7 linked regions of the Homo sapiens genome follow. The protein of the gene in region 7 purifies or fractionates together with the protein of the main gene of each other region. This does not show direct contact. Each region holds a gene or a part of one and is shown on either strand. Other genes may lie near its edges.

Region 1 (3,500 bases), on a different chromosome or scaffold from region 7:
TTGCAGTGAGCCGAGATCATGCCACTGCACTCCAGCCTGGGCAACAAAGTAAGAATCCTTCTCAAGAAAAAAATACCTATTGATTGCATGTTACTATTATTTTTTAATTTGTGTAAATTTATGGAGCACAAGTGTAATTTTGTCACGTGCATAGATTGTGAAGTGGTGAGTCAAGAGATTTTAGGGCATCCATCCCCAAATAATATACATTGAACCCGTTACACAATTTTCCATGATCAACCCCAAATGTTATTTCAATCTTCATACTTTTCTATATTCTCCCAATTTTCTTTTGTTTTTTTTTTTTGAAGTAGAGTCTTGCTCTGTCACCTAGGCTAGAGTGCAGTGGTGCGATCTCGGCTCACTGCAACCTCTGCCTCCTGGTTCAAGAGATTCTCCTGCCTCAGCCTCCCAAGTAGCTGGGATTACAGGCATACGCCACCATGTCTGGCTCATTTTTATATTTATAGTAGAGACAGGGTTTCCCCAGGTTGGCCAGGCTGGTCTCAAACTCCTGACCCCAGGTGATCCGCCCACCTCGGCCTCCCAAAGTGCCGGGATTACAGGAGGGAGCCACTGCACCTGGGCCATTCTCCTAATTTTCTACAGTTGAGCATATATTAATTGTTTAATTGGGAAAACAAATATTTAAAGAGACAGCACAGCCTCATGTTGACTTGTTGTTTACTGGAAACCAGAGGTTGGCAAACTGACCTGCAGGCCAAACCTGGCCCACTAATTACTTTTTTTTTTTTTTTTTTTTTGAGACGGAGTCTCGCTCTGTCGCCCAGGCTGGAGTGCAGTGGCCCGATCTTGGCTCACTGTAAGCTCCGCCTCCTGGGTTCACGCCATTCTCCTGCCTCAGCTTTCCGCGTAGCTGGGACTACAGGCACCAGCCACCAGGCCCGGCTAATTTTTGTATTTTTAGTAGAGACGGGGTTTCACTGTGTTAGCCAGGATGGTCTTGATCTCTTGACCTTGTGATCTGCCCACCTCGGCCTCCCAGAGTGCTGGGATTACAGGCGTGAGCCACCGCGCCTGGCCCCACTAATTACTTTTATATGGCCACAAGCTAACAACAACTTTTATATTTTATTTTTATTTTTTTAGAGACACAGTCTTACTCTGTCACCCAGCCTGGAGTGCAGTGGTGTGATCGTAGCTCACTGCAGCCTCAACCTCCTGGGCTCAAGCAATCCTCTCATCTCAGCCTCCAGACTGGCTGGGGCTATAGGCACCTGCCTACATGCCCAGCTAATTGAAAAAAAAAATGTTTTTGTAGAGATGGGGTCTTGCTATGTTGCCCAGACTAGACTTGAACTCCTGGCCTTAAGTGATCCTTCCCACCTCAGCCTCCCAAAGCGCTAGGAATACAAACGTGAGCTACGGTGCCTGGCCAACAATTTTTACATTTTTATTATTTATTTATTTATTTGACACAGGGTCTCCCTCCGTTGCCCAGGCTGGAGTACAGTGGCATGATCTCAGCTCACTGCAACCTCCACCTCCCAGGTTCAATTGATTCTCCTGCCTTAGCCTCCCTAGTAGCTGGGACTACAGGTGTGCACCACCACGCCTGGCTAATTTTTGTATTTTTAGTAGAGATGGGGTTTTGCCTGTTGGCCAGGCTGGTCTCGAACTCCTGACCTCAGGTGATTCACCCGCCTCAGCCTCACAAAATGCTGGGATTACGGGCATGAGCCACCACACCCGGCCAATTTTTACATTTTTAAATCACTGGGGAAAAGAATCAAAAGAAGAAGAATATTGTGACACATGAAAACTGTATGAAATTCAGATTTCATTGCCCATCAATAAAGTGTCATCAGTACCCAGCCAAGCCCATTCATTTAAGTGTCGTCTGTAGCTGCTTTCAAGTGCCACAGGCAGAACAGAGTCATTGAGATAGAAACCGTCTGGCACACAAGCCTAAAATACTTACCACCTGGCCCTTTATAGAAGAAATTGACCAATTAAAATTAAAAGAGGCCGGGTGTAGTGGCTCATGCCTGTAATCCCAGCACTTTGGGAGGGTGAGGTGGGTGGATCACATGAGGTCAAGAGTTTGAGGCCAGCCTGGCCAACATGGTGAAACCCGTCTCTGCTAAAAATACAAAAATTGGCTGGGCATGGTGGTGGGTGCCTGTAGTCCCAGCTACTTGGGAGGCTGAGGCACAAGAATTGTTTGAACCCAGGAGGCAGTGAACGGAGATCACACCACTGCAATCCAGCCTGGGCGACAGAGCGAGACTCTGTCTCAAAAAAAATAAATAAATTAAATTAAAAGAGCATCATTGAGTTTTTTAGTCTAAAAAAGATACACACTTGGCTGGGCTCAGTGGATCACTTGAGGTCAGGATTTCGAGACCAGCCTGGCCAACGTGGTGAAACCCCACCTCTACTAAAAAAAAATACAGAAATTAGCTGGGTGTGGTGGCGGGTGCCTGTAATCCCAGCTACTTGGGAGGCTGAGGCAGGAGAATTGCTTGAACCCCAGAGGCGGAGGTTGCAGTGAGCCGAGGTGGCACCACTGAACTCCAGCCTGGGCGACAGAACGAGACTCTGTCTCAAAAAAAAAGATACACACTCATCAAAATTTAAACCATCCAGAAAAGGATAGATGTAGAAGGAAGTAACTTAACTCACATTTTGTCAAACTTTCCTTTTTGTGCCTCAACATGCATTTTTACTGTTTTTTTTTTGGGTTTGTTTTTGAGACAGGGCCTTGCCCTGTTGCCTAAGCTGGAGTGCAGTGTGCCATCATAGCTCATGGCAGCCTCAAGTCTCCTGGGCTCAAGTGATCCTCCTGCCACAGCCTCCCGAGGAGCTGGGACCATAGGCAGGTACCACCATTCCCAGCTAATTTTAAAATTATTTGTAGAGCCGGGCGTGGTGGCTCATACCTGTAATCCCAGCACTTCAGGAGGCCAAGACAGGTGGATCGCGAGGTCAGGAGATCGAGACCATCCTGGCTAACATGATGAAACCCCGTCTCTACAAATACAAAAAATTAGCCAGGCATGGTGGCATGTGCCTGTAGTCTCAGCTACTAGGGAGGCTGAGGCAGGAGAATCACTTGAACCCGGGAGGCGGAGGTTGCAGTGAGCCAAGGTAGTGCCACTGCACTCCAGCCTGGGAGAGTGAGACTCTGTCTTAAAAAAAAAAAAAAGTTGTTTGTAGATATAAGGTCTTGCTCTGTTGCCCAGGCTGGTCTCAGACACCTGACCTCAAGCGATCCTCCTGCGTTGGCCTCCTGAAGCCGTGGGATGGAAGGCATGAGCCACTGGGCCTCGCCTGTTTTTACATTTGTCTGTTGCTTCCCTGCCCACTGCAGAGGTTCAGATGTATGTGTGCAACAAGGAGGAGTACGGATTCTTGCCAGTGCCATTGCGCGCCCACAGCACCCTCCAGGATGAGGCCGAGAGCTTCATGCATGTGCAGCTGGAGGTCATGGGTGAGTCTGCCTGCACACCGCCCTGGGAGGTGCCAGGTTGCCTCCC
Region 2 (3,500 bases), on a different chromosome or scaffold from region 7:
GACCCTTAAACTTGCAATGAGAACCATCTGCTTTTTCCAGTACATCAAAAATATTACCAGAAACTACCTATCCTTAAGTAGGTAGCAGGGATTTAACGAAGATGCCCAGATTATTGACTTTTTTTTCTGTAACGTTATGACTGCTCTGGATAAGCCACGGGCGACCTCTTGTGCAGAAGCTCTGGCTGGCAACTCTGAGTGTTTCCAAATACTAGACTTCCTCTAAGGGGACAAGGGCTTTCAATACTTGCACTTTTGGAAGGATGTGGAACTAAGGAATATTTTGTTAGTAACACAATCTCATCCAAAGTTTTCATTTTACAGAGAAGATAATCAGAGCTCAGAAAGCTCAAGGTGCTTGCCCAAGATCACACAGCAAGTCAGAGGCAGAACTTTTAGGGGAAAGGGCCAGGACTTATTAAAGAGGGGCAGCATAGATGCATGCAGATAGATTCCACTTTAACCTCCTCCTCCACTTTGGAATCTATACTTCATAGGACTAGAAGATAGCCAGGCAAGGTGGATGTGGTGGTATTATCCCCATTAGCCAGTTTAAACAACTGAGGCACAGAGAGATCTGTAAAGTGCCCGAGGTCACACAGGTATCTAGGACTAGAATCCAGGTCTCCTGAATCTTAAGCCAGTGGTCCTCCTTCCTATATCAAAACAAGATGGCAGAATAAGACCGGAGCAGCCACTCAACCCTGCCCCTCCTGACCGACGGCTCCCAGTCCCACTGCCCATGGCCAGCCATGATGATCTACCATAGCCCGGCTGGCCTCTGAGTCAACGCAGCTGGCCTGTGCCTGGAGCCGCTTACCTGTGTGCTGGATGGCCCCACAGCACGCCGGGGCACCTTGATATCAAATCCACCTTTGGGGTCCTTCTCCCCTCTCAAGCATGGGTCATTAGGGGGCTCTCGCCCTCCCTCCCAGTCACAGATGGTCTTTCGAATTGCCTGTAGGACGCTGGGGAAGGAAGAACTAAGACTTAGACCAGGTTTCACCATGGGAAAACGTCACTACAAGCTTGTGTTTCTAGGGCCCGTGGTGTCCCAGGAACACCCACATTTGAATTCTTGGGGTGCTTGTAAAGCATGCTCATTTCTGCCCCAATTCCAAAACTCTGGTTTAACAGATTTAAGGTACAGTCCAGGAATCTGTGTTTAAACAAGTGTCCTACATGGTTCTGATGTCCAAGGGATGTCTGAGAACTCAGCTCTGAGCCCATCGAGTGAGACAGAACTTGTGTGAGGCAAGAGGTCTGTATTTCCTTTCTGGTTATAGGGGAGTCTCACCGGTCTTATGAAATCTGTGTGTGCTTAGTTTTCATAATAGCTTAGATGTGCTGCATACTTACTCCATGCTGCATGTGCTTAGGTCTATATATGGACCATCTCATTTCATCATCCCAACAGGCAGCAGGTAGCATTATAATCCCCATTTTACAAATGAGGAAAACTGAGGTTTGGAGAAGGTCAGCAACCTGACCAAGTTCACACAGCTAGATAGCAGTGGATATGGACTTCTAGAGATGAAGGCTTAATTCATCCCAAATGCCCAATCTCCTAAAGAGCCCTCTGGAGCTTGCTGGAAGGACCCATGTGTGTTCAGTGGCTGAGCCAGGACATCCTCTCTGATGGGTACCTGGCATGCTTATGTCTGATATGCTCCTGAAGGCATCTGAAAACCCACCTGATGAGGACATTCTTCTTCTTCCGTACCGCCTGCCGCAGGGGCTCACGCAGCGTCACCTGGGCGAAGTCCTGCAATGCCGCGTAGATGGTGTTCCTGATGGCCTGGTTGAAGACGCTCTCCATCCTGCCCATGAGCACCTGCAGGCCTTTGATCATGGCGATCACCTGGGCAGGAAGAGGCCAAGGGTCATGTTCACCATGTCCAGCACACCAGCTGTCTACTACCCATCACCGCCCTGCCAGGGGAGGCGGGGAGTGAGATGTCCAGAGGCATGAGGCCAGTGCTACTCAAAGTGCCAGCGCATGGCTAGGTAAGAGATGTGTGCCAGAATGTACGTATATCAGCACTTGGCTTCATTCATTGAGAAAGTCTTGCTACAAAACACAAATGTCAGCTCAACTAACAGCATTCTTCGCAATGCAACTGATTTTCATCCTCGCATGAGCTCCCAATTTTGTTGTTCACTGCTGACAAATAGCAGCTGGCCCATGGGCCACAATTTGAGCATTTTGAGAAGTGCCTTGGCTTTTGAAGGCCTCTCCATAGACCAGGCACTCACAGACAACATCAAATAGAACTTTTTTAACATAAAATTTTCTAAAGAATTTTTACAACCTTTGTTTTTGAAACCGTTTGGCCAGTTGCTGCTTGAGTTTATAAAATCAAAACTTCTCCTGCAGAAGTCATGGGGGAGAATGCCTCTACTCCCCTATTTCCCTTCTCCTTACCCTAACTCACTTATCTGTTTGGAGAGATGGGGATTCAGGCACGTGTGATGAGAGGAGCCTGGCCTGACCTTGGCTCGCTCTTTTGGGACCTGCCTGCCTGCAAGTATGTGGCCTCCCTTCTAGGTTTCTGGCTGCTTCTTGCAGTAACCATCCCCTGCCCATCCCGAGGAAGGGAGGCGTGTATCTATGCAGCTGCTTTGCCTATTACCTAGTGGCAAGTTTAATGAGATGTAGGAGGCATAGGAACACTGGTGTGGCCTTGGGTGAAAACCACATTCTCTAGTCTAGCTTTACCAGCAGTAAGTCTGAGCCTTTGACTCCATTGGCCTCTAATATTAATTTCTCAATTGATTCAGAATTCAGAGGGAAAGGCATGTGGCAGATCGTCCACCTCACAACTGCCACACAGATCACACCCATAATGGCATGTTCCACCTTCTACACCAGACTGGAAATACACAGGACAGGGCCCAGCTATGCTGTGCACGCCCAACTGCCAGTGTCTGGGTCCATGGTGGGCAGACACATTTTCTGTTGAAAAGGAACAAATAAATGAATGAATGAGCTCAGACCCTAAGGCTGTTTTTTTCTCTAAAACTTAAAGGAAGAAAAAGAACATTTTTAGATAGAACTGGTATGAAAACAACTCAGGAGGTGATGGTTTTCATTGGCACCAACAGTACAACAATTTTGTTGGTGATGAGCTTTAGTGCAGAGAAATAATGGGAGAGAAGCATTAGAGGACTGTTAGATCATAACAGAATCTGGGCCCCTGGCTACAGATATAACTAGGAGACATTAGGAAAAAGGAAGGAGTAAATAATGAAGATGTCTCAGAATGGCTCCAAATACAGAGGAGTGGGCAGGCCTGTTGGATCTAAAGGAAAAATCTTTACAACTCTAGACAAGGCAAAGATTTCTTAGCTGAAACCCCCAAATCACTAACCACCAAATAACTGACAAATTGGACTTCATCAAAATTAAAAACAGCTGCTCTTCAAAAGGCACCCTTAAAAAATGAAAAGGCAAAGTCACTGATGAGAAAAAATATTTGCGACATATATTTGACTGAAGA
Region 3 (3,500 bases), on a different chromosome or scaffold from region 7:
TTTACCACCAGCAGGCAAGCTCCTGCTGTGCCTGGCCAGCTTTTAGGCACAGGCAGGTGTCAGACAGGTTCGTCTGGACCGTGGACTTGGCAGCTGGCTCCCTTGGACATTGTGGAACGTGGAAGAGAAGCTGGAAGATTTGGGCTTTGGTCCAGAGTCCACCACTTGTTTATTGACCATAAGAAAGTTTCCGTTCCTCTTACCCTGAGTTTCTTCAGCTGGAAAATGGGAGCCATGATTTTCCCACCTAGCAGAGGGCCTTAGACAGTGAAGTGAGCTGACTAGGAAGTCCTTCCCCTGGACCTGGCTAAAAGTTCATCCACTCCATGTGGTCTCTCCCTTTCCTGAGTAGGGCTTGGTCTCCCCGTCTCGAAAGTGAAGCTAAACCTCTCAGGCTGGTGTGACACAGCATTAGAGATAAAAACCTTGTGTAACTGAAGTGCTGGACATATTTAAGGTGTGACTGTTGAGCTGTTAGCAGTCCTGCGTCCCCTGACCTGCACCGATGGGTGGCGTGGGATGTTGAAGAGCAGTTCAGCAGCAGTGGCCACCCCGCTGGGAGAAGGGGCTCCTGCCCATGACCAGGGCCCCTTGCCTTTCCCCACAGATCCTGGCTGCAGCTCTGACCGAATGTCACCGGAAATCCAGTGCCCAAGGCAAGCCTCTGGCCCTGAAGGTCTTTGTGGCTGGCAGAAACCGTCTGGAGAATGATGGCGCCACTGCCTTGGCAGAAGCTTTTAGGGTGAGTGGTTTCTGTCCATCCTGCCCCTGCAGCCTTGAGGTGCACTCGGCATAGTAGGCTGACAGTTCTGGATGCTAATCCCAGGGCTGGCACTCAACCAAGAGACCTGGGGCGTCACGTGCCCTCTCCAAGCCTGTTAACCCATCCGAAAATGAGCCAGAATTCCTGTCGTGCATTTCTGGAAAGGTGTGTGACTTTCCGGAAAGGTGTGTGACTGGCTCCCACTGGTGAGCCAGCCCCTATGGGGCTTCAGGCCAGGCAGGCCACTCTGACCAAGGAGTGTCATCTGCCAGGCTCAGAAGTGGTGAAGTGAGATGGTGCGAGTGCTGACAGTAGCCTGGCCCAGCCACTGGTGTGGGGCACAGAGAAGGAACATACCAGACCTCCAAGACAGGGAGATAGGCAGGGGCAGCCGCAGGGCTCAGGTGCCAAATGACGTGCTCTCAGGTGACCTTATCCCCACTCCTCTTCCACTCTCCTCTCCCCATCCCCGCAGGACATTGCTGAGTCCCCGATCGTGAGTGCCAGCAGAAGGCTACACTTGCCCCTAACAGGACTGAAAACTTTGGGGTCTGTCTCCCTCCTCTCTTTCCTGTTTTTTTTGAGGCAGAGTCTCATTCTGTCACCCATGCTGGAGTGCAGTGCGTGATCTTGGCTCACTGCAGTCTCCGCCTCCCAGGTTCAAGCAGTTCTGCCTCAGCCTCCCGAGTAGCTGGAATTACGGGCACCCGCCACCACACCCGGCTAATTTTTGTATTTTTATTAGAGACGGGGTTTTACCATGTTGGCCAGGTGGTCTCGAACTCCTGACCTCAAGTGATCTGCCCGCCTGGGCCTCCCAAAGTGCTGGGATTACAGGCGTGAGCCACCACGTCCGGCCCCTCTTCTCTTAATTTAAATGTTTTCTTCAGCAAACAGTATCCTAGGAGCATTGCTCATACGGGCCGGAATGTCCTGGCTGCCCATCGAGGCTGTCTGTAGATACCCTTTGCCTGCTTCAGTGCCAAGTGAACATCGCAGAGATCTGCCTTGTGTCTCCCTGCACCCCTGGCTGCAGGGGAGCTCCTGCTGCCTCCTCTGGAGCTGGTGGGGGCCTCACTGCCATCCTTGGATCCCTCCCTGCCGTCAGCCTGCTGTCCTCAGTGCACTGGGAGGAGGGGGTGCGCTGTGGTTGTGTTGAGCCTTCATAGGTGTCCTCTGGTGGGCTTAGAATGGGGGTTCTTAATCCCCCCCAGTATGTGGATAGAATTCAGGGGTCTGTGAACATGGATGAGGAAAAAATAACATTATTATTTATTACTAATGTAGCTAAAATATGTAGTGTGACCTTTGATTATAAATGTAGACAATAAACCTCACAGCATTAGAAAGGCCTGTGACTACCCACATAACAAACAAGCACATGTAGTCCCTGAACCCAAAAAAAAAAAAAATTTTATTGAGGCAGGGTCTCGCTCTGTTGCCCAGGCTGGAGTACAACGGTGCAATCTCAGCCCACTGCAGTTGAAGCTTCCCAGGCTCAAGTGATCCTCCCACCTCAGCCTCCCGATTAGCTGGGACTACAGGTGTGCACCACCATGCCCACCCAGTTAATTTTTGTATTTTAGTAGAGATGGGGTTTCACCATGTTAGCCAGGCTGGTCTCAAACTCCTGACCTCAGGTAATCCACTCGCCTTGGCCTCCTAAAGTGCTGGGATTATAGGCATAAGCCACTGCGCCCAGCTTAAAATTTTTAAAAAAATAAAAAGAAAATCTTGTGACTTTATCCCCAGTGGAAATCACAGGTATTTCATATGAAGTTATAGTTACTGCTGATATATAGAAATATTTCTCACTACATCAAAATTACAGTAATAGTGGACCCACCCCTAGATCTTGTTATTTGGTGCATTAACAAGAAGTTTGTATATCACTACAGCATGCGTTTGGAGTTTTTTCCTAAATGTTTTGATAACTGTTCCAACTGAGTTGATTTCCTTTGTAATTCTGTGTAATTTATCTTAAAATTTTAAAAAAACATTTTTTGAGGAGGGGACCCAGGGGCTTCACCAGACTGCCTGAAGGGTTCATGGCACAGAAAATACTAAGAAGGCCTGACCTGGAGTGTGCCCAGGTTGGCCTTCCTGTATTTATTTGTGGACCACCCGCTCCCCCCATTGCCCTGTGCTGCACTGAGCACCTGAAGACAGCAGAAGATTCCTTGGCACAGTTAAGCCAGGCCAACCCTCAGTCCTGGGTCACAGTGGAGACTGGGACATGGCCCTCTCCTCCAAAGCTCAGGGGCCGATGGGATGCAGACGGAATATAGGCTTTGAATGTAGGCAGGATGAGGACCACCGTGATAGAGGAGGGACCAGGTGCTCCGGGAGCACAGAGGAACGCACACTGGATCGTGGCTGGGGGAATCCAGGAAGCCTTCCTGGGAGAGGAGGTGACCAAAACAAGAGCCCTAGAACTCATATGAGTTAGCCTGTCAAGAAAATGCTGAATGGCTGGGTGTGGTATCTCACGTCTGTAATCCCAGCACTTTGAGAGGCCGAGGAAGCTGGATCGCCTGAGGTCAGGAGTTCAAGACCAGCCTGGCCAACATGGTGAAACCTCCATCTCTACTAAAAATACAAAATTAGTCGGGTGTGGTGGCGCACGCCTGTAATCTCAGCTACTCAGGAGGCTGAGGCAGGAGAATCACTTGAACCTGGGAGGCAGAGGTTGCGATGAGCCAAGATCATGCCATCACACTCCAGCCTGGGCGACGGA
Region 4 (3,500 bases), about 130 Mb from region 7:
CCAGATATTTTCAGTTGCCGTGATTCTGAGGATCTGATGCCCCTGGAAAGGTACAACAGTCCCCAGCACCCACTAGCTGGCCCAGGCCCCAAACTGCCAGGAGTGGCCTTCTTGAGACCATGTGTCACCCTCCCAGGGAACAAGAGCTCGTGGCTGTCTGATAAGCCAGGCCTGTGTGACTCCTCAGGACATGCACCCCCAGGTCCCTGTACAGCTGAGCACAATAGCTCAGGAGTGCAGGGCCATGATGCCTGTGTCTGTCTTCTCTCCTGGGCCACAGCCACCCCACGTCATGCTGCAGCGCCGCAGAGATCATGGCTGTCCTCTTTTTCCACACCATGCGCTACAAGTCCCAGGACCCCCGGAATCCGCACAATGACCGCTTTGTGCTCTCCAAGGTAAGAGCCCAGCTGCCCACTGCCAGCCACACCTTGCCTGGGACTAGGGTCACACGGGCCCTGGAATGGTGAGTGGTCTTTGAGGAGACCTGGCTGGGCCCACCTCTCCCAGGTGCCTTCTCCCTGCTCGTCCTGGCCTCTCCCTCAGTGTCCTGCTCTGTGCTGACCCAGCTGGCTAAGGAATACAGGACTGAATTGATGGGTTGCTCTGCCATGGAGCCCAGGTACATAAACAACGCTTTAACTCAAAGAAATGGAGTAGGGGACTACGGAAACATCTGTTGTGTGTTCTGCCCAGTCTGGGTGTTGACAGGCAGGACTGGCATCTCGGTCTGGGTTGTGGCTCCCTACCTGCTCTATCTGTGTTGTGCCAGCGCTCCCGAGGCCACGGCTTGCCCCCTCGGGGTGGTGGTGTGCTGTAGCAGGGTTTTGGATGGGGACCCCCTGACCCCCCCCTTCTGGGTGGAATCACAGCCACAGATCCCTGAAATCCACCTGTGCTCAGGCCTGCCTCCGTGGCGTTTGGTCTCTCGGGCAGGCTTTAGAGCTTAGAAGTCTGTCCAAGTTGTTCCCATGCCACAAACCAGGGATTAGGGCAGCCGGCTGCCTGCTGGGGTTTTGGCTTCGTCCAGCCTCACAGCTGTGCCCCCTGCACCTGTCTTAGTGCCTGCCTGGCCTTGGCAGTGGGAACTTTGGGCTGAAAACCAAGAGGCTGAAGAGGGCTGAAAGGGGAGAAGTGGCCTTCACTTGCTTCCTCCCCTGAAATGGATGCTGCAGTTGGCCGGCTCGGCCGGGCCCCAGGGGTCAGTGTGAAGTAGGCACAGCCCGAAGTAGAACCGCTCCCCACCTGACCTCACCCCACCATCCATCTCCCGGCAGGGCCATGCAGCTCCCATCCTCTACGCGGTCTGGGCTGAAGCTGGTTTCCTGGCCGAGGCGGAGCTGCTGAACCTGAGGAAGATCAGCTCCGACTTGGACGGGCACCCGGTCCCGGTAAGTGCTCCTGCCAGAGCCTCCCATGCCTCTGCCTCCACTTCCTATTTCCCAGACATGTGGGACGGGGGTAGGGGGTGCCCACTGAGAAGCCAAAGGTGTTGAAAGGCGGAGGAGGGCATTGAGTTGAGGAAGGAAAGAAGCAGGTGTTTTGGGGACACGTATTCAACCCAAGCTGGTGCCAAAGGGGAAGGCCTTCTGAGGCCTCAGCCAGGGTGCTCTGGGATGACTTCAGGGAGGGCCTCTCCCCAAGCTACCCTTCTGCACTGGGCCTCCTTGGCTAGGTAGCTACAGCTTGGGAAGAGAGGGGACTCGATAAGGGAGTGGCTGCAGGATGCTGGCGAAACCCTGGGGAAGGGACCCAGTTTGTTCCTTGGGGTGCCATCTGGCATCCCTGCAAACGTTAAGACTTCATGGATTACCACAAAAACTGTCACATGGTCTGGGTCCCCACGAGGGGCAAATGTTCTGTCAATTTTTTCATGATTCTCTCTCCCAGCACTTTGTGAAGTGGGTGATGTGGGAACTGAGGCTCACAGAGGTTCAGTCCCTTGCCTGAGGCCTGAGGCCACATAGCTGGCTAGTGGGCAGGGCTGGGATTTGAACCTATAATTATAATTAGTTCATTAGGAGAAGAAGTCACATGCTAGGTAGAGGCCATCCTGGGGCCTGACCTTCTGCAGAGGAAGGGCTTGCTGGGCTGGGTGGGAGTGTGGCTCCCTAGGCGGGTGAGACCAGGATCCCTTCTCCTCTCAGATTAACGGTGGCCTTCTGTTATGACAGAAACAAGCTTTCACCGACGTGGCCACTGGCTCCCTGGGCCAGGGCCTCGGGGCCGCTTGTGGGATGGCCTACACCGGCAAATACTTCGACAAGGCCAGGTAACACACCTACTCCCCACCCCCAACCTGGGTAGTTTTGGGGAGTGGTCCTTGGGTGACCCACCCTTCACCATCGCCCCCAGACTCTTCCTCTTTCCTGGCTAGGGCAGAGTAATACATATGCGTGGCCTCTTTTGCTCTTTAAACATCCGCTATGGCTGGTGCCATGACCGGCCCCCTTTACAAATGAGGAAACACTCAGGAGTTAAGGGACCTGCCCTGGGTCCCTCAGCAGTGACTGGCAGGGCCAGGTTTGCACAGAGTGCGTGCTCTCAATCATGTGCTCTTCAGCCAGAGTGCTTAGGCTGAGGACTTCCTGTTTTGCCCCCAGCCCTGTGCCCAGACCCCAGAAGTCTCAGAAAGACCCACCCCCAGGCCCCTGTCTGACTAGGCACCAGGAGCCCAGGCCTGAGCCACTTGCCTTTATCTTGGTAAAGGGGAGGGTTGTATGTTCTGAGGGGTTCTGGGATACCTGTAAGCCACCTCCTATCAGCAGGGAAGAAACAAACATTTGAGAGATTGAGCCTTCAGAGGGTGGGTGATGAGCCTGACCAGAAAGGTGTGCTGCTCTAGCGCCCACCAGGTGATTTGTAGGAACGGCCCCCCAGGAAGGTTCTAGCCATAAGTTTGTCTGCGGTGGTCAGATATGGCCTGGGGGGATGAGGTTGTAAACTGTTAAGAATAATGGCTGGCTGAGGGAAGGATTGCTTGAGGCCAGGAGTTCCAGACCAGCCTAGGCAACAGAGCAAGACTCTCTCTACAAAAAATACAAAACTTAGCCAGGCATGGTGGTACACACCTGTAGTCCCAGCTACATAGGAGGCTGAGGTGGGAGGATCACTTGAGCCTAGGGCTTCAAGATTATAGCTATACATGATTGAGCCACTGCACCCTAGCCTGGGCTACAGAGCGAGACTCTGCCTCTTTAAAAAAAAAATTATTCTTTTTTTTAAAGAATAATCACTGTATTAGTCTGTTTCCACACTGCTGATAAAGGCATACCCAAGTCTGGGGAAGAAAAAGAGGTCTAATGGACTTACAGTTCCACATGGCTAGGGAGGCCTCACAGTCATGCTGGAAGGTAAGGAGGAACAAGTCACATCTTATGTGGAAGGCGCAGGCAAAGAGAGAGTTTGTGCAGGGAAACTCCCGTTTTTAAAACCATCAGATCTTGTGAGACTTATTCACCATCACGAGAACAGCATGGGGAAGACCTGTCCCCATGATT
Region 5 (2,402 bases), about 25 Mb from region 7:
AGATACTGAGAAAGAGGTGGATGACCTAACAGCAGAGCTGAAAAGTCTTGAGGACAAAGCAGCAGAGGTCGTAAAGAATACAAATGCTGCAGAGGTATGAGTTGCTTTGTATTGAAGAGGAGATGGGATGATACTGGAACCAATTTAAAGAGCTGGATATATGACAGTGCCTAGAATGTAGTAAGCACTCATAGACTTAAAGTTTTATAACTATCAATTTTTATTTGTACAATAAGAATACTATAATTTGTGAATTTAAATGCTTAAATTATTTTAAAATGGAAGGGGCATGAGGAGAGATTGGTAATTCCTTCATCTCTGTAATGTGAAAATGATGGCTCTATTTGGAAAATTCTATCTAGCAGTTCTTTTCGGTGTTTAGGAATCCTTACCAGAGATCCAGAAAGAACATCGCAATCTGCTTCAAGAATTAAAAGTTATTCAAGAAAATGAACATGCTCTTCAAAAAGATGCACTTAGTATTAAGTTGAAACTTGAACAAATAGATGGTCACATTGCTGAACATAATTCTAAAATAAAATATTGGCACAAAGAGGTGAGATTGTTACCGTTTAGTTTAATTTTAAACATATTCTTTATGAAAAAGGAGGGTTTGGGGAGGATTGTTTTAGGGGGTTGGGGTTCTTAAATTTTGTTTGTGAGCTACATTGTGATTTTTAATTCTGTGATCACTTCTAAGGTTTATAGGGGACATAACAATATAAATTGTTATATACAGAAAAGTCTGAGTAACGATTAGAATTAGACAACTACCCTTTCACCCTAGGGCTGATCTGGACATTTAAGAAAAGATTACATGGACACTTTTGAGTGTTACAACTATTTTTCTTGAAGTCCTTTGAAAAATAATTGATAAATCAGTCACAACTCCTGTTGTTTTCATAGCTGTGTAATTTGTCATATTTTTTTTTAAACAATGAATTGTATGTAATATTATGCCTTCTCTAACTCTCCCCTAAATTGAACTTTTAGATTTCAAAAATATCACTGCATCCTATAGAAGATAATCCTATTGAAGAGATTTCGGTTCTAAGCCCAGAGGATCTTGAAGCGATCAAGAATCCAGATTCTATAACAAATCAAATTGCACTTTTGGAAGCCCGGTGTCATGAAATGAAACCAAACCTCGGTGCCATCGCAGAGTATAAAAAGAAGGTATGAATGAACTGTGTATGTATACTAGTTGGAGTTCTTTTTAGTCCTTAGCCTAAATTCTGATCTTTAGTTTTGTATAATTAACAATGCTGTTGGCCGGGCGTGGTGGCTCACGCCTGTAATCCCAGCACTTTGGGAGGCCAAAGGCGGGTGGATCACAAGGTCAGGAGTTCGAGACCAGCTGGGCCAACATAGTGAAACCTCATCTCTATTAAAGATACAAAAAATTAGCCAGGCGTTGTGGCACGTGCCTGTAATCCCGGGTACTCGGGAGGCTGAGGCAGGAGAATCGCTTGAACCTGGGAGGTGGAGGTTGCCGTGAGCCGAGATCGCGCCATTGCACTCCAGCCTGGGCGTCAGGGCAAGACTACGTCTCAAAACAAAGTAATAATTAACAATGCTAATTATCATATCAAATTTATCTGAATAGATTTTCCCTATCATAATCTTTTCACAGGAAGAATTGTATTTGCAACGGGTAGCAGAATTGGACAAAATTACTTATGAAAGAGACAGTTTTAGACAGGCATATGAAGATCTTCGGAAACAAAGGCTTAATGAATTTATGGCAGGTTTTTATATAATAACAAATAAATTAAAGGAAAATTACCAAATGCTTACTTTGGGAGGGGACGCCGAACTCGAGCTTGTAGACAGCTTGGATCCTTTCTCTGAAGGAATCATGTTCAGGTGTGTAATTATGCTGAGTTTATAATCCCACTGTTACCTTTTTCTACATATTCTCCAAACTCAGTATTTCTTGGAGGTAGGATGTGAAGGCAAGATGTACAACTTGTTTCATTTACTAGTAAATACTAATTTGCTTGCATGCTATTTATGCTTGCAGTTTACAGGGGCAGACAGCCAGTATTTACAAAATATTTGTCTAGTTCATCTTTTCTTAAATTTTCAAGGCATTTTTAACATGAGGATTGAGAAATTGTATTTGATAAGGAGAAAGAATAGCAAGAAGTATAATACTTAGCTTGCTCTTTAAATCTTAAAACTTTGGTATGTGCTCCTATGTATGCATCCTCCAATAACGTTTTTATAAAATAACAGAAAAGAGAATTCATATTTGTGAAAAGCAAGTTACAGATTCCTAAAAAAGATAGTAGAACTCAATTATGGAAAGCAAATCACAAAGTCTTAACTTTAGCTTTACAGGTAATTTGACTATGATTTTCTTAATCATTTCAGTGTTCGACCACCTAAGAAAAGTTGGA
Region 6 (3,500 bases), on a different chromosome or scaffold from region 7:
CCTAAGAGTGCTAGAAAACCATTAAAGGGTTTTAAGCAAAGACAAAACATGGTCTGTTTTACAACTTTTTAAAAAATCATATTTTTATTTATTTTGCAGTAAAGTGGTCAGCTCAGGACCATAGTTTTTTTCCCCCTAATAGTTTTTGGAGAACAGGTGGTGTTTGATTATATGAATAAGTTCTTCATTGATGATTTCTGAGATTTTGGTGCATCCACCACCCGAGCAGTGTACACCGTACCCAATGTGTAGTCTTTTATCTCTCACCCACCTCCCACACTTCCCCCTGAATCCCCAAAGTCCATTGTGTCATTCTTACGACTTTGCATCCTCATAGCTTAGCTCCCACTTATAAGTGAGAACATATCATTTTTGGTTTTCCATTCCTGAGTTACATCACTTAGAATAATGGTCTCCAACCAACTCCATCCAGATTGCTGCAAATGCCATTCTATCTTTTTTTTTTTTTTTTTTTTTTGAGATGGAGTCTCACTTGCTCTGTTGCCCACGCTGGAGTGCAACGGGGCTCAATCTCAGCTCACTGCAACTTCTGCCTCCTGGGTTCAAGTGATTCTCCTGCCTCAGCCTCCCAAGTAGCTGGGACTATAGGTACATGCCACCATGTCCAGCTAATTTTTGTATTTTTATTAGAGATGGGGTTTCACCATGTTGGCCAGGCTGGTCTCAAATTCCTGACCTCAAGTGATCTGTGATCTGCTTGCCTCAGCCTACCAAAGTGCTGGGATTACAGGCGTGAGTCACTGTTCCTGGCCAATATATTGTTCCTTTTTATGGCTGAGTAGTATTCTGTGGTATATATACATACCACATTTTCTTTATCCACTTGTTGATTGATGGGCATTTGGGCTGGTTCCGTATTTTTGCAGTTGTGAATTGTGCTGCTATAAACATGCACATGCAAGTGTCTTTTTCATATAATGACTTCTTTTCCTCTGGGCAGTAACCAGTAGTGGGATTGCTGGAACAAATGGTAGATATACTTTTGGTTCTTTAAGAAATCTCCATATACTGTTTTCCATAGTGGTTGCACTAGTCCACATTCCCACCAGCAATGTAAAAGTGTTCCCTTTTCACCACATCCATGCCAACATCTTTTTTTTTTTTTTAATTTTGAAACAGAGTCTCACTGTGTTGCCCAGGCTGGAGTGCAGTGGCATGATCTCGGCTCACTGCAACCTCCGCCTCCCGGGTTCAAGCGATTCTCCCACCTCAGCCTCCCGAGTAGCTGGGATTACAGGGATTTGCCACCACACCAAGCTAATTTTTGTATTTTTAGTAGAGATGGGGTTTCACCATGTTGGCCAGGCTGGTCTCAAACTCCTGACCTCAGGTGATCTGCCCGCCTTGGCCTCCCAAAGTGCTGGGATTACAGGCATGAGCCACCGCACCCGGCCTATGTTTTTATTTTTTAAATTATGGCCATTCTTGCAGGAGTAAAGTGGTATCACATTGTGGTTTTGATTTGCTGATCATTAGTGATGTTGAGCATTTTTTCATATGTTTGTTGGCCATTTGTATATCTTCTTTTGAGAATTGTCTATTGGTCTTTAGCCCACTTTTTGATGGAATTATTTGTTTTTTTCCTTGGTGATTTGTTTGAATTCCTTGTAGATTCTGGATATTAGTCTGTGGTTGGATCTGTAGTTTGCAAACATTCTCTCCCACTCCGTGGGTTGTCTATTTACTCTGCTGATTATTTCTTTTGCTGTGCAGAAGCTTTTTAGTTTAAGTTCCATCTATTTATCTTTGTTTTTGTTGCATTTGCTTTTGGTTCTTGATCATGAACTCTTTGCCTGAGCCAATGTCTAGAAGGGTTTCTCCAATGTTATCTTCTAGAATTTTTATGGTTTCATGTCTTAGATTTAAGTCTTTGATCCATCTTGAGTTGGTTTTTGTATAAGGTGAGAGATGAAGATTCAGTTTCATTCTTCTACATGTGGCTTGCCAATTATCCCAGCACTGTTTGCTGAATAGGGTGTCCTTTCCCCACATTATGTTTTTGTTTGCTTTGTCAAAGATCAGTTGGCTTTAACTATTTGGCTTTATTTCTGGGTTCTCTATTCTTTCCATTGGTCTATGTACCTATTTTTATGCCAGTATCATGCTGTTTTGGTGACTATAGCCTTGTAAAATAGTTTGAAATTAGGTAATGTGATGCCTCCAGATTTGCTTAGCCTTCCTTTGGGTATGTGGGCTCATTTTTGGTTCCATATGAATTTTAGGATTGTTTTTTCTAGTTCTGTGAAGAATGATGGTGGTATTTTTATGGGAATTGCATTGAATTTATAGATTCTCTTGGCTGTATAGACATTTTCACAATATTGATTCTACCCATTCATGAGCATGAGATGTGTTTCCATTTGTTTGTGTCATCTATGATTTCTTTCAGCAGTGTTTTGGTAGAGACCTTTCACTTCTGTAGTGAGATATATTCCTAAGTATTTTATCTTTTTTTTTTTTTTTGCAGCTATTATAAAAGGGGTTGGGTTCTTGATTTGATTCTCAGCTTGGTTGCTCTTCGTGTATAGCAGTACTACTGGTTTGTGTACATTAATTTTGTACCCTGAAACTTTACTGAATTCATTTACCAGTTCTTGGAGCTTTTTGGATGAGTCTTTAGGGTTTTCTAGGTATACAATCATATTGTCGGCAAACAGCGACAGTTTGACTTTCTCTTTAACAATTTGGATGCTCTTTATTTCATTTGTTTGTTTGTTATAAGAGATGAGGTCTTGCTTTGTCCCCCAGCTTTGACCTCCAGGGCACAAGCGATCCTCCCGCCTCAGCCCCCCACGTAGCTGGGACTACAGATGCGCACCATCATGCCCGGCTAATTTTTGTATTTTTCTGTAGAGACACGGTTTTGCCATGTTGCCCAGGCTGGTCTCAAACTCCTGAGCTCAGGCAATCCACCTGCCTCGGTGTCCCAAAGTGTTGGGAGTACAGGCATGAGCCACTGCACCTGGTCCTGGATGCCCTTTATTTCTTTCTCTTGTGTGATTGCTTTGCCTAGGACTTAAAGTACTATGTTGAATAGAAGTGGTGAAAGTGGGCATCTTTGTCTTGTTCCAGTTCTCAGGGGGAATGCTTTCAACTTTTCCTGTTCAGTATAATATTGGCTGCAGGTTTGTCATAGATGGTTTTTATTACCTTAAGGTATGTCCCTTCTATGCCGATTTTCCTGAGCATTTCAATCATAAATTGATGCTAGATTTTGTCAAATGCTTTTTATGTATCTAATGAAATGATCATATGATTTTTATTTTTAATTCTGTTTATGTGGTATATCACAATTATTGACTTGCATATGTTAAACTATCCCTTCATCCCTGGTATGAAACCCACTTGATCATGGTGGATTATCTTTTTGATATGCTGTTGGATTCAGTTAGCTATTATTTTGTGGAGGATTTTTGCATCTATGTTCATCAGGGATACTGGTCTGTAGTTTTGTTTCTTTGTTATGTTCTTTCCTGGTT
Region 7 (2,230 bases):
CTGTGTTGCCCAGGCTGGTATCGAACTCTGGGCTCTAGCGATCCTCCTGCTTTGGCCTCCCAAAGTACTGGGATTACAAACGTGAGCTGCCATGCCCAGCCTCCAGACTATTTTAAATGCCCTCTCCCACTGTGGAACATTGGCATCCTTTAAGAATAAATGCATCCTTTTTGATCAAATGATTTACTCTTTTTTTCTTCAATGTCCTCATGTCTCAATTTTTTTTTCCTTTTCTTAAAACAGTCCCACTTGAACTTCCTGGAACTGAATTCTCCAGAACATAATATTTATAATCCATAGAATTCCTGCCCTGCTCTGCAGTAGAGTGTGCTATGTTTTGTTTTCCCACTGAGCCAGAAGCCGAAATATTATACTACCACTTACCACCATCTACCACCTCCAAGACCAAGACCAACATTATGTATTGAGCATCGTATCTTTCCTACTGAGCCTAGACACAGCCTCAGAACCTCTCAACATAGCACTTGGAGCAACAATTGCCGCTTGATTGGAATTGCCATTTGAGCTTGAGTTAGCCCCAATGGCAGAACGACAGGCTCGCACTAGTGTCCACCTGTGGCTGTCAGGGGCGGTACCACAGAAAGGGGAAAGGCCACTTGCCTCTACCCACTGCCCTTTTGGACAACAATTCCAATTGAAGGAACACCAATCACTGATGGATCCCATTCCAAAATGTCTCTTCATTCACATCATTTAATTCTGTTGAATGAATATGTTCCTCCCTCACCTTTTATAAACAGAAAATTAATATAAGTCCCAGTTACTTGCTTCTTAGACTCTGTGAGACTCATGTACCAAAACAATGTGACATTCTTTTCGAGACTTTGACTTGTACGGTCAGTATGAATTTAGTGCCTTTCCAGGCAGCAAAATGTTTCTTCTTTGCTGATTTCATAGGACAAATATCCTAGCATACTCACACCACCAGTGTCCCACCCTCACAGACTGGCACATTAGAATCATATTAATCTGCTTGTTTGCATGTTACAACTGATACTGCAAAAGCCTATTCAAGTCGGACTGAACTAGGCTAAGCAGAGGACCCTTGTGGAACCTGGAGCATTTCTCAGGGACAGGTGGCTAAAGAGGGGAGCTCTAAAATCACTGCTCTGAGAAACAGGAGGTGGGTTAAGGCTTTTGTTAACTGTCATGTGGCCAGGGTACGATGGCAGGACTTCACAGAGCAGAGCCCTAAGCAGATGGCAAGGCCACTGTAAGGAAGCTCCCGGCAGCATCCCAGGTCTGCTCTCCAGAGCCACTTCACAGCACTCAGGGATCGCTGGCTCCCGGCCCTAGGCTGCTGTCCAGTGACCAGGTGGACAGGGTCCTCCAGTGACTGCAGGCCAAGGGAACCCCAGCCAGCATGTGCAAGCTATTAGGAAGATGTCCCATCTTGCCCATATCACCCCAGTGGCTCTTCACCTTCAGAGTGACCACTTCCCAGACTCTGGAAGTGGGAAGACCCTCTTTGACGCTTTATTACAGTAATTTGAGCTCCTATCGACTTGGAGCGAATGAATTTCTCTTTTGTGGTTAGGTCTCCAAATGAACCTCCTTACCTGGCTCCCCTCTGGTCTCCTGTACTGTCAGTCCCCAGCTCCCAGTGTTGTTTTCTGATGCCGGCTCCCTCTCTGTATTGAACGGCAATGGGAACAAGAATGACTATCAAAGCAAACAAATGCATGGAATTAAACAAAAAGTGTACTTCACTGTTTTCTAGTCCTGTCTTTTTCTAAATGTACTGTTTGTGCCCTGAGAGCTGCCTTAATAATCTCAGCATTTGTCAGAACTTGAGGGAAAGGAAGACTTTCCATGACTGGGTTTCCTGCAGCCACAAAAAGCAGGTAATGGAGAAAGCTAGTTTCTGCGATTCTTGTATTTGACACAGCCACGAAAGGAAGGGGCAATCATCATTTTATTTGGTGACAGCCTCTTCTTGAGTATTCTGTAAAAGCTAGACTGGCACTCTGCTTCTTCCCTATGCTTTCCTGCTGCCCATCCGGTAGCTACTCCTGTTACTACTGACCCCACTATACAGGGAGCAGAGAGAGAAAATGAAGATGAAAATCTGGCTTCTGAGAAATTATTTTGGTAAGAAGCATTGAGAGTGGAAAGCTTAAAACACCATTTTGGACTGTCCAATTTTCAGCCAATCCTAATTCCCACTGGCAAAGGTAGTTGAAAGTTAGCAACATGTTCAAACAAGCAC

Evidence for each region.
Region 1: the proteins of MAP3K13 (region 7) and COLGALT1 purify together in Homo sapiens (affinity purification with mass spectrometry; one large-scale study listed by BioGRID and IntAct). This does not show direct contact.
Region 2: the proteins of MAP3K13 (region 7) and CYFIP2 purify together in Homo sapiens (affinity purification with mass spectrometry; one large-scale study listed by BioGRID and IntAct). This does not show direct contact.
Region 3: the proteins of MAP3K13 (region 7) and RANGAP1 purify together in Homo sapiens (affinity purification with mass spectrometry, with the first as the bait; one study listed by BioGRID). This does not show direct contact.
Region 4: the proteins of MAP3K13 (region 7) and TKT purify together in Homo sapiens (affinity purification with mass spectrometry, with the first as the bait; one study listed by BioGRID). This does not show direct contact.
Region 5: the proteins of MAP3K13 (region 7) and SMC4 purify together in Homo sapiens (affinity purification with mass spectrometry; one large-scale study listed by BioGRID and IntAct). This does not show direct contact.
Region 6: the proteins of MAP3K13 (region 7) and KLHL20 purify together in Homo sapiens (affinity purification with mass spectrometry; 2 studies listed by BioGRID and IntAct, with this or other methods). This does not show direct contact.

What each region holds. Positions count from the first base shown.
Region 1 is NC_000019.10:17,569,149-17,572,648, forward strand, and holds part of COLGALT1 (procollagen galactosyltransferase 1 precursor), read left to right. Parts: intron 1-2,822; exon of another isoform or gene 2,823-2,843; intron 2,844-3,334; coding exon 3,335-3,454; intron 3,455-3,500. UniProt on the Homo sapiens protein: Beta-galactosyltransferase that transfers beta-galactose to hydroxylysine residues of type I collagen. By acting on collagen glycosylation, facilitates the formation of collagen triple helix. Also involved in the biosynthesis of collagen type IV.
Region 2 is NC_000005.10:157,318,123-157,321,622, reverse strand, and holds part of CYFIP2 (cytoplasmic FMR1-interacting protein 2), read right to left. Parts: intron 1,862-3,500; coding exon 1,695-1,861; intron 969-1,694; coding exon 821-968; intron 1-820. UniProt on the Homo sapiens protein: Involved in T-cell adhesion and p53/TP53-dependent induction of apoptosis. Does not bind RNA. As component of the WAVE1 complex, required for BDNF-NTRK2 endocytic trafficking and signaling from early endosomes.
Region 3 is NC_000022.11:41,258,688-41,262,187, reverse strand, and holds part of RANGAP1 (ran GTPase-activating protein 1), read left to right. Parts: intron 1-607; coding exon 608-742; intron 743-3,500. UniProt on the Homo sapiens protein: GTPase activator for RAN. Converts cytoplasmic GTP-bound RAN to GDP-bound RAN, which is essential for RAN-mediated nuclear import and export. Mediates dissociation of cargo from nuclear export complexes containing XPO1, RAN and RANBP2 after nuclear export.
Region 4 is NC_000003.12:53,239,023-53,242,522, reverse strand, and holds part of TKT (transketolase), read left to right. Parts: intron 1-280; coding exon 281-398; intron 399-1,277; coding exon 1,278-1,391; intron 1,392-2,174; coding exon 2,175-2,272; intron 2,273-3,500. UniProt on the Homo sapiens protein: Catalyzes the transfer of a two-carbon ketol group from a ketose donor to an aldose acceptor, via a covalent intermediate with the cofactor thiamine pyrophosphate.
Region 5 is NC_000003.12:160,430,650-160,433,051, forward strand, and holds part of SMC4 (structural maintenance of chromosomes protein 4), read left to right. Parts: coding exon 1-94; intron 95-382; coding exon 383-556; intron 557-993; coding exon 994-1,176; intron 1,177-1,633; coding exon 1,634-1,866; intron 1,867-2,376; coding exon 2,377-2,402. UniProt on the Homo sapiens protein: Central component of the condensin complex, a complex required for conversion of interphase chromatin into mitotic-like condense chromosomes.
Region 6 is NC_000001.11:173,735,481-173,738,980, forward strand, and holds part of KLHL20 (kelch-like protein 20), read left to right. Parts: intron 1-3,500. UniProt on the Homo sapiens protein: Substrate-specific adapter of a BCR (BTB-CUL3-RBX1) E3 ubiquitin-protein ligase complex involved in interferon response and anterograde Golgi to endosome transport.
Region 7 is NC_000003.12:185,487,365-185,489,594, forward strand, and holds the end of MAP3K13 (mitogen-activated protein kinase kinase kinase 13), read left to right. Parts: 3' UTR 1-1,730; downstream 1,731-2,230. UniProt on the Homo sapiens protein: Activates the JUN N-terminal pathway through activation of the MAP kinase kinase MAP2K7. Acts synergistically with PRDX3 to regulate the activation of NF-kappa-B in the cytosol.